2 separate regions of the Homo sapiens genome follow, and region 2 is linked to region 1. The links come from fine-mapping of genetic effects on gene expression. Tissue or cell type: atrial appendage. Region 1 holds a variant in brackets; the other region holds the start of a gene. All regions are shown on one strand. Distances are between the middles of the regions.

Evidence for each region. PIP is the estimated chance that this variant, and not a neighbour inherited with it, causes the effect.
Region 2: POF1B starts here. The variant in region 1 is fine-mapped to the expression of POF1B in atrial appendage (GTEx, PIP above 0.99).

Annotation. Positions count from the first base shown.
Region 1 is chrX:85,796,218-85,798,982 of GRCh38, forward strand. No RefSeq gene overlaps it. Among named protein-coding and RNA genes, the nearest start is that of MIR1321, 38 kb to the right of the region's middle. The variant A/T (reference allele first, on the strand shown) is at 1,605.
Region 2 is chrX:85,378,140-85,380,904 of GRCh38, forward strand. POF1B (POF1B actin binding protein) reads right to left here and starts at 1,526. Exons shown (of 17, transcript NM_024921.4): 1 at 1,500-1,526; 2 at 1,034-1,356. The coding sequence starts at 1,315.

The DNA of each region.
Region 1 (2,765 bases):
AGAGAACTAGCCCTCAGGTTCTGAGATTCTTTCCTAAGCTTGGTCTATTCTGTTGTTAATACTTGTGATTGCATTGTGAAATTCTTGTACACAGCTATTCAATTCTGCCAGATTTGCTAAATTCTTTTTTATACTGGCTATTTCATCCTCAACTCCTGTATTGTTTTACTGTGATTCTTGTTTTCCTTGGATTTGGTTTTGTCATCCTCCTGAATCTTGATTATCTTCATTCCTATTCATATTCTTAATTCTATTTCTGCCATTCCAGCCAGTTCGGCCTGGTTAAGAACTCTCATTGGAGAACTGGTGCTGTTGTTCAAAGGACATATGACACTGTGGCCATTTAAGTTACTATAGTTCTTTCTCATCTCTGCATGTGGGTATTCCTTTAACTGCAGTGTAGATTGAGTACAGTCAATAGATTTATTTTCTAGATGTTTTCACTGGGGCAAGGCTTAGTGCTGGGTCTCTATTTGAAACTTACTTTTTGTCTCTAGTTTCAGAGGGGAGAATGTTAGTGAGGTATTTTTATTGTTAAAGCTTTGGGGTATGATTCAGTAGGTAGCACTTAAGCTTATTGGTTAGTTGGTAGATTCTTGCTTGGTTGTGTGGCTCCCCTTTGTTTCCTCAAAGTTACAGCTATGTTTTCTCTCAATGCTCTGAAAGTGTGTGGGTTTCTCTCCCTCTTAAGTACTGGCTGTAGATTGTGGCTTGGCACTCTGGAGCTGCCTACTGCAGCTCTGGGGAGATCTCAGTGTTGTTATTCCTTCTCCAGCTTGGTGGTGCAGAGAAAGGGACCTTAATATTGGTTGTGGCCAAGGACATTTTGCTTGTCTCCTGTGGGCTCCGCCCAAGACAGATGCAGGTCAGCAATTGCTCAGTGCAATCAACCCAGGATAGGTGACCTGTGGTTTGGGCCCAAGCCAGGGGTTCTCTATCTGGTGACAAGCAGTGTGAACTGTGTGGGACCTGTGGGAGATGGATTGGCCTTCTCTCCTTGGGTCAACTTCAGCTTTCTGGAGGTGTGGATAAAGCATTTAGGGTCTTTGCTTCTTCATTAGTCTGATGGTAGCAAGGGCAGTTCCTTCCACTGCAGAGGCAGTAACAGAGAGGCTTTCAGTTGCCCCTGGAAGCTCTGTCCAGGGGGTTGCTCTGTTGTTAGTGGCTCAATATCTCTGGTAGAAGGTGGCTGGAGACCCAGGCCTGGAGGACCTTCTCAGTGAGGAGATTTGGGAATGTGCACCCACATAACAGTCTGGTCACTTTTCCATAAGGCTGCTGTGGTATGCTAGGGGCCCATTTCAGCCCCTAGTTGCCTCGAATTTTCCAGCACCTGGAGGTATCACCAGTGAAGACTGTGGAACCGCAAAGATGGCAACCTGGCCCTGCCCCTCCCTCTGGGAGCTCCATTTCAGAGAGGTATAGATCTGTTGTCAGGTCAAACGCACCCGCAGTATGTGGCTGGATCCCACATTGGGAGGTATCCGTATCTTTGTGTGGTTTTGAGAGTTCCTCTTGCTATTGATCTCTAATTTTATTCCACTGTGGTCTAAGAAGACATTTGATATGATTTTGATTTTTTTGAATTTATTGGGACTTGCTTT[A/T]TGGCAAATTATATGGTCAATTTTAAAGAATGTTACATAAGCAGATGAGAAAAATGTATATTCTGCCTTTGTTGAGTGGTATGTTCCGTGTATGTCTATTAGCTCCATTCAGTCAAGAGCTCCACTTACGTCCAAAGTTTGTTAATTTTCTCCCTTAATGATCTGTCCATGCTGTCAGCAGAGTACTGAAGTTCCCTACTATTACTTTATGGCTGCTATCTACTTTCTTAGTTCTAGTAATATTTGTTTTATAAATATGAATGCTCTGGTGTTATATGCATATATATATATATATGATAGTTAAGCCACCTTTTGGAATTAAACATTTTATCATTATATAATGCCTTTCTTTTTTTTTTTACTGTTTTTGATTTAAAATCTGCTTTATCTGATATAAGAATAGTAACCTGTGTTCCCTTTTGTTTTTTATTTGATGAGATATCTTTTCGTGTTCTTTTACTTTGAGCTTCTGGGTGTCTTTACACATTAGGTGGGTTTCTCGTAGGCAGTAGATGGTCTTGTTTTTTCATCCAGTTTGCCAACCTATACTTTAACTGGAGCATTAGGCAGTTTATGTTCAAGGTTAACTTGTTCAAGGTTGCTTTGTATTCTCAATTGTGCTTGCTTTATAGGACCTATACACTTCATATTTATGTGTACTCTTATGGTAGCAAGTGTCATCCTTTTGTTTCCATCTTTAGAACTTCTTTGATTATTTCTTATAGGACTGGTATAGTGGTGACAAATTCTCTTAGCATTTGCTTATCTGGAAAGACTATTTCTCCTTTGTTTATCAAGCTTAGTTTGGTAGAATGTAAAATTCTTAGCTGGCTTATGTTTTGCTTTGGAAGACTAAAAATAGGCTCCCAGTCTTTTCTGGCTTGTAAGATTTCTGCTGATATATCTGCTGTTAGTCCAATAGGGTTTCCCTTATAGGTAATTTGGCCCATTTATTTAGCTGGCTTTAAGATTTTTTTCTTTAGTGTTGACCTTGGATAGTCTCATGAGTATATGCCTTGGTGATATTAATCTTGTATAGTGCCTCGTAGGTGTTCTCTGAATTTCTTTTATGTGGATGCAGATTTCTTTGGTCTCTCTAGCAAGGTTAGGAAAATTTTCCTGAATGATTCCCCCACATATGTGTTCCAGATTGATTACTTT
Region 2 (2,765 bases), 420 kb before region 1:
GTGGAGTTTTTCTCAACCAGTTGAGAAATGTTACTTTATATTCTACTCAAATTTGTGGGTTTTGGAAAAATAATATGTATTACTCCTGATTGGTAATAATAATGTAACATAGCATCATATCCCAATGACTGCTTTTTGAGATTTTTGTATCTTAAAAACATAATTTCAGTTTGGACAGAATTTTCCAGAAAGCTTAAAACATGCAAATTTAATGTAAAAGGAGTCAGAGGATAAAATACACATAAAGCTGTTAATTTTATACAGTCTTGCAGGGTTACCTTGTATTTATTGGGAAGGTTATTAACACAGGTATTGGTGCTAAGAATAACTCTTAAGAAACAAACGTATTTCATTTTATGGGATGTCTTAGAGTTCCATCTTTTGTAGCTTTCATGTAACAATTGCTTACATCTTGCCTTCCTCAATCCTATATCAACTCTTCCAGTACTCTTTCTACAAGTATTCCATAAATTATTCACCTAGGCTGTACGATAAAAAGTGTGTCATTCTTGGAAGATGAAACACATATGACAATTCAGACATCTGCACCTCTCACTTATCCTGGAGCAGCTATACTATTTGCTGAGCACAAATAATTGCTTATCACTCAGACATGCCACAGTACCTGTATCACCATATTTGATACCAAAAAAAACCTGTTTGCTTCTGATATGAAATTAATCAGTAGGAACTTGTTCTAATAAAAATCTACTGTACTCAAGTTGAGAACTGCTTTGCAGTAGGGGCAAAGGGATTCCTTGGATCAGATCTTTCAGTCAGATCAAACAGAAAATGAGCCTTCCTATACTATGGTTAGATTATGAAAATCAGTGAAACCCGGAAACAAACAACCACAGACACTAGTAAGTGAAATAACAGCCAAGAGATGAATTTGGGTGACTATCCAAGGCATATATAACTGCAATCCACCAAAAGATATCCTGTGGAATAGAGGCAAAGAAGCAGAAAGGAAGAGAAATCAGGTTGAAGATTGCCTTTCTCCACTAGTCTGGCATAGCTTTCTTTGTTGTACCTGAGAATGGTCGCTCCAAACCAAATTTTGGTAGGAGGAGGTGGTTTTGAGAGGGGAGAGCACTTCCCGTGAGTTGAAGGGGTCCAAGGCCTGCACCACCTTGTTCATGGGCCCACTGTAGGTCCTCACTCGCTCATACACTACATTTTTTTCTGGAGGCTGCTGGGCTTGGCTTGACTGATGGTAGCAGTGGTAATGCTGGGGCTGGCACTGCAGCACCTCTGGGAGCTGCTGGGTTCCACAGCTGCTGCTGCTCGTCTCACTCCAATAGCTCGAGCTCATCTTCTTCCAGTGGTCAGCAAGGGACCTCCCAGATGTTCTACCTAAGGAACAAACAGAGAAATATAATGGAAAAAAAAGACAGGCAAGCAGGCAGTCAGGCAGGCAGACAGACACACGACACACGTGTGGAAACCGCTTATCAAAACCTCTGCCAATAGTGGTGCCGGGAAGAGAAGAAAGCTACCTGAGCAGCAGCAAGAGCAGGTCTGGCAGCTACAGAGGAAGCAGCAAAATATTTGAGCTCAAATGGAAAATGGAGCCACCCTGTGACATTGCTCCAGGAAATGGTACTGACACGCCCTTAGGGGCGGATTCACTTAGCAGGTTTACATGCCAGGAGAGGCCCTGCCTTGCCACGGAGATAGCTACAAGGCTGCCCAGCAGGTAAAGGAGTCTGTGAAGAGCAGAAATGTAGAATGTCAGGGATGAAGCCAGAGTTTCCAAGCACATGGGCTTAAAAATTCACAAAGACATGAAAATGCAAAAAACTTGCTAGAGAAAAAAAGTCACACATGTTATATGAAAGTGTCTTTTTATGGTTCTTAAGTTTAGCAAAGGTAGTTACCAGCATAAGTATTATTATTCCAGATTCCCAGACTAAAATAATGAGTATTAGTCTAGGAATACACCAATTTTCACAGATAAATTTGCATTCTTTGCAAAACCCATCTGATAATTGCAGTTAAGGAAGATTACTAAGGGGTCTCTTTCTAGTGACTCTGTCTAATATATGGACTTGTTTATCTTACTCAAAGCCTCGTATTCTTTTCTATCATTTGTTGAAGGAAATTTGTCTAAATGATTGAATTGCTGTATAGAAAGGTGGATGGTCAAGAAAAACCTAAAGATTCCACAAATGCTTTGCATTTTGGCATTCACATTTGTTGTTTTTCATTTATGCAAGGGAATTTCTCCTGCCCTTATATGTGCCCTAGGAAACACTGAGTTTGATTGACTTTTTAATATCTAGTTATTAAGGGAGCTGCAAGTCCTGAAAGATGCCTTAACTGACATAATGAGATTTAAATGTGTTTACAACTTACATTTATTACTACTTGAAATTTTGATCATAATGCCTACTTACCCTCAGATTTTGCTATGCAATATACTTCAGCACCACTTAAATCCAGAATACTCTCATTCAAAGTGACTTTAGTAAAAAGTATCTTCCTAATGTGTATATGTGCAATAGGACCTAGTATACTACCACCATTCTAGAGAGGAAGAGAATGTTATCCAGGGGGCTAGCAGCATTTTTTTTCTGCCCAGTGAACAAAGTGTTATGATTTACTATTCACTCTGTGTCAGGTACTGTTCAAGGGGTTTTATGTGGATTATAATTATTTCATCATTGAAGTGACTTTATGAGGTTTATAGGTGAGAAACTGAGGCACAGACATGGAGAGTTTGAAAAACTTTCCAAAGTTAAATAACCTGTAAATGGTGGGCC